2 separate regions of the Homo sapiens genome follow, and region 1 is linked to region 2. The links come from fine-mapping of genetic effects on gene expression. A gene starts in region 2. The other region holds a variant in brackets. All regions are shown on one strand. Distances are from middle to middle. Region 1 has its middle 9.6 kb from the start of GJA3. Region 2 holds the start of GJB2 (gap junction protein beta 2).

What was found. PIP is the estimated chance that this variant, and not a neighbour inherited with it, causes the effect.
Region 1: its variant is fine-mapped to the expression of GJB2 in monocytes (BLUEPRINT, PIP 0.95). The same link has a PIP of 0.9 or more in monocytes after LPS, monocytes after Pam3CSK4 and monocytes after R848.

What each region holds. Positions count from the first base shown.
Region 1 is chr13:20,168,151-20,173,234 of GRCh38, forward strand. No RefSeq gene overlaps it. Among named protein-coding and RNA genes, the nearest start is that of GJA3, 9.6 kb to the left of the region's middle. The variant A/G (reference allele first, on the strand shown) is at 2,999.
Region 2 is chr13:20,189,829-20,194,828 of GRCh38, forward strand. GJB2 (gap junction protein beta 2) reads right to left here and starts at 3,110. Exons shown (of 2, transcript NM_004004.6): 1 at 2,955-3,110.

The sequences.
Region 1 (5,084 bases), 22 kb before region 2:
TCTGCGTACTGGGCCACATCCCTCCTGCCGTCCCCCACTTCCCTGATGACACCTACAGCAAGCCCCTACCCAAGTGTTCTGTGATCCCCTGTAAATGTGGCCTCCCTAGCTACTTGCTTTTATGAAACCAACAATCCTGGGGACACAGTTTTCGGCTGTCTCAAGACGGGGCAACCACTCTTTTCCCCAGGCCTGTGGGTCCCAGGCCTGGAGCTAGGGTTGGCATTCTTGCCTGAATTCTCCACTCTATCCCAACCCCTGAGGCCGCCTGAGGAGGCTCAGACTGTGTCAGGCTAGGAGGACAGTCAAACCACAAAAACATGCCTTTTAAGAAGTATAAGCACAAATCCCTCTTTGATGTTATATAAAAGCTCAGTGTCACTGATTAGGAATCCAGCAGCCCAGGTCCCTGTGTGGACATGACGGTGTTGAGGGAAGCGGATTGACCGCTGGCGGTTGTGTCCACAGCGAGGAGGTGGCTCTCCACTGTTGCTGTGCCAGCCACGTTTCCAGGAGTGTGTTTAGTTTTGGACAGAGTCCAGTGAAAAATCCAATCTATTTAAACAATGGAACATCACCCATTTAAAAGGTGACTGGCCCATTTAAAAGGATACAGAGAGGACTGAAAAACCACAAACTATAAAGAGGGGTTGAAGGGAGTGGGAATATTTCCCTAAGAGAAAGGACTCAGAGAAGACCCCTGTCCATTTAATGAGTACTGGTTACATGCCAGACACTGGGCCAAGACACTTACATATATTAGCTCACTTAATCCTCACAGCAGCCCAGTGAGGGTCATATGAAGAAACGGAGGCTCAGGAAGGTTAATTAACTTGCCGAAGGCCACACAGCTAGAATGGGGCAGGGTCAGGATGTTAATATGAATCTGCGGCCCCAAGCCCTTGCTCTTAACCAGCTGTGTGTGTGTGTGTGTAAACACAGTCATATGTGTATGTATGTGTGTGTATATATTTGTGTGTGTCAAAAAGTTTAGGCTGGCTTTGTATGTCCACCAAAAGGACAACCATGACCTGTGGGCAGAAGTTCCTGGAGAACAGCTTTTGCTTAAACCCATTACATATACCCAACTAGAGTTGTCAAGAAGTGGCTTCAGGATGTGGTGGTTTCCAAAGGTAGTGGGTGGGATGTCTGTGGAGTGTGTCTCTGAGAAGGTGGCCAGGAAATGCATCTATGAGGTGATGGGAAGTAACTTCCTGGAAGGGAAGAAGAGTTCAGATTAAATTAAGGCTGGATGTTAGAAGTGTTAGATAAAACCCTTTGGAGGACCTGGTGGATGCTGGAAATTTGTTAAGCGAGCCATCCATGTAAAGTGCAGCAGGGAAGGGTGCGTCTTGGAGTCAGCTGGTGGGCGACACTGTGAGGCGACTAGCCCTGCGAACTCTTGGGAGGCTGGGACTGAAGAAGACTGAGGAGGAACAGATGTGCCCTGGGCTCCCTTCTCCAGCTCCTTAAAATACCTGTGTCCTACAGGGAGGACAGACGGAGAGATGGTGCCACAGAACCCAGGAACTGAGCCTGGGAGGCTTTGCTGCTTTTGGTGTTGGTTGAACAGGATTTGTTCATGGATTACTTTTTTTTTTTTTTTCCACGCAGGCTGGAGTGCAATGGTGCCAACACAGCTCACTGCAGTCTCAACCTCCGAGGCTCAAGTGATCCTCCTGCCCCAGCCTCTCAAGTAGCTGTGACCACAGGCGTGCACCACCACACCTGGCTAATTGTTAAATTTTTCATAGAAATGGGCATGTTGGCCAGGCTGGTCTTGAATTCTGGCCTCAAGTGATCCTCCTGCCTTGGCCTCCCAAAGTGCTGGGATTACAGGCGTGAGGCACCATGCCTAGCCATGGATTACCTTTTTGATTCCTCCTTTGCTCTTTTCTTTCTTGGCTTCTACTGGCTACATTTTCTTCTCACTTGTCTTTCCTATCCTTTCCTTTTAATTTCACTTTTGCCTAATGCAGTCATAAAGACATTTCTGTCAATGATGAACTGCATATCCAACGGTGGTACCATAAGATTATAATGCCATATTTTTACCATACCTTTGGTATGTTTAGATATGCAAATTCTTACCATTATGTTACAGTTGCCTTCAGTAATCAGTACAGTCACATGCTGTACAGGTTTGTGGCCTCGGAGCGATAGGCTACACCACACAGCTTAGGTGTGCAGTAGGCTATTCCATTGGTTTGTGTGGGTACACCCTATGATGTTCCCACAATAACAAAATTGGCTAATGACACAATTCTCAGAACGTACCTCTGTCATTAATCGAGTGACTGGGTATCATTTCTTCTTTCCCTCCCCTCAGTCCCCATCGCTGATGGCTCTTCTCCATCAGTAACCAGCCCCCACCACCACAGTGTCCTTTTTACTCTTCCTTCCTCCCCACCCTTACCCCTTGTGATGGGAGGAATGAGCAGAGATGGTGCAGGACCAGCCAGTTCCTGCCAGCAGACTCCCTGCCACCAGCAGCCGTTGCTAGATAAGTAGAATACACCTATTTCTTCAGGACAATTGAGAGAAAGTCTGAGTTTCCATCACTGGTCTGCCCTTATTAGCTCTCTGCCCTGGGGTAAGTGGCTTGCCCACACTGCCCCCGTTTCATGAGCTTATGTACATGGAGATTACGTAGGATTGTTACGAAGATGAATCAACATGACCCAGTGTATGAAGTAGCCTAAACCAGTGCTGGTGCATAGTTGGTGCTCAAAAAATGGCACCCGTTATTATTACTTAGAAACTTGTATAGCAGTTTGCCATTGCTGTGACATTTATATTGTAATTTACACAGGTTTTGATCCTCAAGAGATTAGGGAAAAAATCTTTCACTACTAATGTCATTATTTCCCCTTCTTTGCAAAAGCTACTTACTACGAATAGAAACATTTACATAACGAGTGAATTTCTCAAATGGTGCAAGAATCAACCGCAAAATAGGCCTCCTCTTTTGAGTTTGGGAGAGAATAAACAAACAGAA[A/G]TGAAACAACCTGGTTCCTATGAAGCCTCTTCTTGCTTCTTTTTGCCTCCCTGCGGGCCCCTTTGTCAGCACAGGGCAGGTGCTGAAGAACTTGTGCTCATCTGGCCCAAGCGCCTCCTCCATGTTTTCATCCTTGACAAGCCCAGACCAGGAACTCAGTGTCCCCTCACAAGAGGACAAATTTAATTTCCTGCTTATCCAAGATTTGTTTTATTTGATATGTAGGGACAATGTGTTTATAAATGGTTAGCAGCTATTAAGAGTGTAGAAATGTGTCATTTTCTTAACAGATAGGATCACCAACCCTCTTGAAAAAAAGTTGACATCACTTTCTAATATGGCCCCTGTGTAATGTCCCCAAGGCACTGTGTGATGCCACAAAAGCAAAATAAAATATTTGAAGTGTGTAGATTTCAGTTTACAAAGGCCAGGCCTATTGTTTGCCAAGGAAAAGAAAGCAGGAACCACTGGGTTCTCCGACAGTACTTACTTGGCTTTCTTCCTCTAAAAGAATGAGGCATTATTAATCCTTTTATTTCTACCAGAGAGCACAGAGCAGCTGAGTGATAGATGTTATCTAGCTTAAATATGCACTGGGTAAGCATCTGAGTGCAGGTAGCACTGTTCTAGGAATTATGGGGCTCCTGGGAAAGCGTAATGTGTTTAGTAGCTTATAATCCATCAATATGAGTTGATGTTGATAAGTTCATTAATATGATTGATGAACTTATAATTCATCAACCCATCAAATGGCTGACAAGCACATGAACTATGCCAAAGGCGCTGGGGTGTGATGGTGAGCTGAGTTGGGGGTCTATTCTCTCTCAACTTACAATCAACAAGATGAGCATTAAACAGGTAAATGCACAAGAAAACATGTACTGTGTTTCACTGCATCTAAAGTACGGTTGATCATAAGACATATCACCATGTATGTACCACTGAAGTAAAAGCCTGACTGTCATTGTTGGATGTCGCCAATTGTAAAGCACGGCTCTCTATTTCACAGGTGTTAGAATGGGAAAGAATTGTGTGTCTTAGAATCTGTGTGTGTAAGAATTAACTTATAAGTAAATTAATTACTAATCACGGTGAGTTCTTTATAGAAAAGATGTTACAAGAAAGCCCAACAGAGAGCCCTGCTTTAGGATGAGTGACATTTCAGCTGAGGCTTGAAGGGTAAGGACAGGGGAGAAGAGTTGGTGGGATGCTGTCTCCAATGGGTGGTGCAGGAGATAGGTGAACAGCGGCGCAGGGGAGGGAGATCAATATGGTGGGGATAGTCAGGGAAATATTGGAGGTGGGAATTGAGCTGCATTTTGAATGATTTGAGGTGGAAAAGGAAGGCCCAAACAAGGGACATAACACTAGCTAAGGCCAAAAGCAAAAGATAATGGGTGAAAAATCCATTTTATAATTCAAGTGGAATCCCAAGAGACTCCAAATAGCCAAAACAGTCTTGAAAAGGAGGAACAAAATTAAAGACTCACTCTTCCTGATTTCAAAACATACTACAAAGTGATAGTAATCAACACAGTTTAGTACTGGCATAAAGACAGACATATAGACCAATGGAATACAACACAGAGGCCAGAAATAAACACTTACATGTATGGTCATCTTCCACAAGGGTGCCAAGACCATTCAATGAGGAAAGGACAGTTTTTCAGCATATAGTGGGGGAAGCTGGATATCCACATGCAAAACAATCAAGTTGGACCCTAATCTTCCACCATATACAAAAATAAACTCAAAATGAGTAAAAAACCTCAATGTTAGACCCAAAATAATTCAACTTGTGGAAGAAAACAAAGGGCAAAACTTCACAAACTTGGATTTGGCAAATGATTTCCTGGTTATGGCACCAAAGCCACAGGCAATAAAAGAAAAAATAGACAAATGGATTTTATGAAAATCAAAAACTTTTATGCTTCAAAGGACACTAAAGAGAGTGAGAAAGCAATCCACAGAATGGGAGAAAATATTTGCAAATCACATATCTGATAAGGAATTAATATCTGGAATATATAGCGAACTGCTAAAACTGAACAATAACAGTATCAACAGAAAACAAGCTGATTCAAAA
Region 2 (5,000 bases):
AAAAGTAGCTTGTTCACCTGAGTAATTCACCCAATCTTTAAACACATCATAAAAATTTGCTGTGCTGGGGAGTGTCATAAAGTCCTCGTTAGCTGAAAGGCACTCAGGGGTTCTGACCGTACCCCTGCATCCTCTGCAGAGCTTCCTTGGGTCTTCCTGACTCTGCAGAAGTTACTCAGCGTTCAACAGCTGCATCCATTTGCAGTCTCAAGTTTTGGCTGTACCACTGGGGCCGATACTAGCTTGGGCCAACCTTGCTCAAAGGCTGAGAGGCCAAGTACAGGAGAACCGTGAGGATAAGATGTCTAGTCTCTCTGCTGAGCCACTTTCCTTAATGTCTTGAATGAATTTTCACAGACGTGGCATGTAGCAGTGAAACTGTTGTTACCAGTGGTTAAGTTTACATTTGAGGCACCCCGAGTTAAAATTTTACAAAGGACCTTGCTTCCTCCTACGTGAAAGGAAGAGGTTAGGAATGCCCTCTTCATGGAGAAAAGCCACTGTGAGCACAGACTTTCGTGTAGGCTTTGTGGATGGCTTGGTGGCCTCACTGTCAGGCTGGCACTGATGGCTCAGTTAGCATATCTGTTTTGATAAGTGCTGCAACAGTGCATTATAATTGTGGGCTGTGGTTTTAATTTCAAAGTGTTTCTTAAAAGACACATTATTTTAAAATGACAGAAAATTCAACTCCCTCGGTTACTGGCCCAGCTAAGCGACGTCACTGCATTGCAGTTCAGCGCTGAAGCTTGGGAGAGTCCCACACTCCTTACTGCAAGCGGATGTGGAGAGGCCAGTGGATAATCTCCTGTGAGCCCATGGCCTTCTTTTCATCCCAGGATGTGAATTGTCTTCACTGATTCATAGTTACACCCTGCCTGCCACAACCAACGCTCTCCTAAACAAGATTCCACCCTCTCCACAATCCGGATGAATCATCTCTTTTCCACCCTTCAGAGCTGGTAGTGAATCCTCCTTCTTCTTTTTCTTAAAAGCATCCTCCTCTCCTCATTTTAGGCAAGTTGCATCCCGTTTTCTGATGGACTCCAGAAGCAGGCTCGTAGTGAATGTCTTTCATGACCCACAGTCGCTGCCACGGGGCACCAAGGTCAGGCAGAAACCATCCAGTGCCACCTTGGTCAGAGGCTAACAGGAGAGAGGTGGCCACGAAAGTTACATCAGATTGACATAGGCCTGTGAAACATTTAGCTTCACTGAGCTTGGGAAAGACAACATCATTGGAAAAAACAATATTTTAGCCCAGGTTCAGCACTGACCCATTGATAATCCAGACTGGGAGGCCCTTAGGTGAGCTGGTTGTCCTGCTACAGCACCCACAGCTCAGGCCAGTCCCGTCCCAACAGCAGAACCACCGAGGACAGCAACATTCCGATTTTAACAAAAGCATCTTATGGAATTAGACATTCTTCATTGGCCCTCACTGAGTGGAAAACAGGATACTCCCCGAAGTAAACTCTCTCCTGGTTTACAACAATACACCTGGCCAAGAATATGGGGCTGCAGGAGGAGGGGTTTATCCTTTGCCCTCTTCCACCTGCCAAACCCAGGTCATACACCCTTCTACAGACCTGTCCAGTTACCATCAGCTGAGAAAAATACAGTTCCGAGAAACCCTATATTGTTATTTTATAAAGCTTGAGTTGAAGCTACCTGTTTTAAAGATCCTTTTTCAGGAAGAGGAGTAAATTAAGATTTACTCCCCAATGGGCTAGGGGGTCATGGGTTAAGAGGGGCTCAGAAGCAGGACGAAGTTGTTTTCAATATTCAAGTCAGAGGAGGAGCTGCCCTCCTGGCCTCCCGACCCTGGGCGGTTACATGCAGCTTCCTACCGGGCCCACGCCATCCTGCACCGCCTGGAGGGCTGCCAGAGGCCAGCGGAGGAGTTGGTTCAGTTCCTTAGGGAAGACACTAGGTGAATCACCAGGATCCAGAAAAGGCAAAAGGGACTCTTCACCCCTTAAATTTCTCCACCCTTAGGTGATGGGTGGTCGACCTTGCCTGGCTGTCCCCAGAGGGTTCCTCCACCCTTCTCACCAGTGTCTGAAATTGTGACCGACTGTGCACAGCAGTTTCGAAAGGGACTCTAAGGTCACATGGGGACACGGCCGTACCACGCTTCTCAAGGCAGTCCCAGGTGCATGGCCACGGAACCCAGCTCTCAGCAGCTGTTAGTTAGGTGAGCGCTGTTCGGGCTGCCTTCCTCCTCCAGTGGGGCAGGATCGAGGCACTGATGGAACCGTCCTGAGGACGCGGGTCTCAGCCGCACACCACCTCTTCGCGAACAAGGGTCCTAAAAATTTTCCTTCTAGGCGGGGAGCACAGCCCGGAAACAGACCCTCGTGAAGTGTTTAGGAAAAAGGGAAGCCACTGAAATCTTGGCCCCGGGGTAGGCCGGGATCGGCTGGCTCCGCGTTAGTTCTAGGCAAACTCCGCCCAAATCTCTGCCCGGGGATTTTTCTGCAGAAGCCGCTCCAAGAGGTAAAGGTCAGTTCCTGCAGCGAAGGCTTCCTGCTTCACCGGCGAAACGGAGCTTTGCTTCGAAGCTAAGCTTTCGGTGAATTTAAAACGTTTGGTGGCAGTGGGTCAAGTAGCCAGGCGGCTGCGCTAGAGTACCCCGAAGGGACATCGGCGACACCACAAACCTCGCGCTGGCGGCTCGCCCGCGCCTTTTTCCCCTCCCGCGCGCGCCCGGCCCCACTCGCACCCCGGGCGGTGCCATCGCGTCCACTTCCCCGGCCGCCCCATTCCAGCTCCGGAGCTCGGCCGCAGAAACGCCCGCTCCAGAAGGCGGCCCCCGCCCCCCGGCCCAAGGACGTGTGTTGGTCCAGCCCCCCGGTTCCCCGAGACCCACGCGGCCGGGCAACCGCTCTGGGTCTCGCGGTCCCTCCCCGCGCCAGGTTCCTGGCCGGGCAGTCCGGGGCCGGCGGGCTCACCTGCGTCGGGAGGAAGCGCGGCGGGGCCGGGGCGGGGGTCTCGGCGTTGGGGTCTCTGCGCTGGGGCTCCTGCGCTCCTAGGCGGGTCCTGGGCCGGGCGCCGCCGAGGGGCTCCGAGTCGGGGAGAGGAGCGCGCGGGCGCTGCGGGGCCGCAACACCTGTCTCCCGCCGTGGCGCCTTTTAACCGCACCCCACACCCCGCCTCTTCCCTCGGAGACTGGGAAAGTTACGGAGGGGGCGGCGCCGCGGGCGGAGCGCGCCCGGCCTCTGGGTCCTCAGAGCTTCCCGGGTCCGCGAACCCCCGACCGCCCCCGAAAGCCCCGAACCCCCCAAGTCCCCTTCGAGGTCCCGATCTCCTAGTTCCTTTGAGCCCCCATGAGTTCCCCAAGTGCCCCCAGCGCCCTGAGTCTCCCCCGGTTACCCCGAGCGCCGCCTCCCCCAGCCCCTTGGCGGCCCGGGTGAAGCGGGGGCGGCTGAGAGTCGGGACCCCCCAGGAAGCGGCGCCCCAGACCCCGGCTCCGGCGCTGTGCCGTGGGCGGGGTTCAGGGATGGCTGTGGTCGTTGTCCTCTGTACTCCGCATAGTGCGAGAGGACTTGGCATTTATGAGCGCTTCTTTAATTTTTTATTGTTAGAGAAACAGGCATTCCTCCAAGGACTGAAGATCTGTTCGAGTCGCGGAGGCTGCGCGGGCCCGCGAGGCTCTCGCAGGGGGACCTAGGCTGGGTGGCGGGGCAGTGCCCTCTGGAATGGGGGTTAACGGTGGCCGAGGAGGGGGCGCCGCTGGTGCCGGCGAAGTCCCCGCTTCTTTCTCCCCTCAAAATCTCACCAATCCGAACGAACGCCTTCTCGAATTTCCGATTTTATTCAATTACTTTCAACAATGTGCCAAGGACTAAGGTTGGGGGCGGTGGGAGAGACAAGCCTCGTTTTTGCCATGGCCGGCAGGGGGGTCCCGCCATCTGCGGAGGGTGCCCCCCGCGGCCCCCGGCCCAGCCAACTTCCTCCTCTTTTCGCAACTGGGGAACTGCAAGGAGGTGACTCCTTTCGGGGTGAGGAGGCCCAGACTTTTCAGAAAGGAAAGAGGGCAGGTAAAACCTGCCAAGCCCCTTCCTGCTCGATGCACACAGCACGAAAGGGGGAAACTGATAGGATTCTGCGGAAGACCGCTGGGGGGCTGGCTCTGCACTGCACACCTGCTGGGGGCTTTCTGGATACCGTGAAACTTTGTCTCAGATTATGAGGTCTCAGTATTTGCATTTGGTTGGGGATTTTGATGTCTTGCGATACAAATGACAGAAGACAGATTTGCACAGCGCAAGCGGATGAGGGACTAAGATGTGCAGAGCAGGCTGGGTGGGGACTCCCGGGGAGGTCTCCCCCAACCCCCGCCCCACCTCGGGCACCCACTTCGCGATTTTTGCAGAGGGGAGCCAGGTCAGAGGTGCAGCCTGGTCCCCTCGCGCTCACGTTTTTACCCAGGTCAGTTCGAAGTTAAGTGGAAATGATGATTAATCCTGACAAGTCAGATCTGGCCTCAGAATGGATTTCCCGTGATTGCCACCATTATTAGCATTGACTTTTCCTTGAAAAATTGGCGCCCCGTGGCCATGGGCCGACCTAGGCAGTTTCTGCAGGGACGAGCGTGAGTTTTGTACCGCGGTTACCACCTACTTTCCAGCTCCAGGTCTTAGTCTAAGAGGGAGTGTCTGCTCATGAAGAGGCAAAGCCCCAGGAGCTGCGAAAAGCCTTGCATGGCCCATCTGAGAGATGTGCTGAGTCGGCTTGTTAAAAATGACAGGCAAAGCCTGTGGGGTGGGGCAGCTTTCTTGGCCTGAGCGCATCTTGGTTGAGCCAGAGGTGACTTGGGGTGGGGAGTGGGGCGCCGGTTGGTGGGTTCTCCCTTTAATTTCTCAAAGGCTGTGGTGTTTATGAGTCTGTTGGAATCCTGGTTGGGTTGGAATGAAGGAAGGTTCTAGAACCATTGTGGGAAGCTCGCTAGTAAAGATGGTTTGGAGATCGGAAGTTGACTGACTTTCCCCCATTGA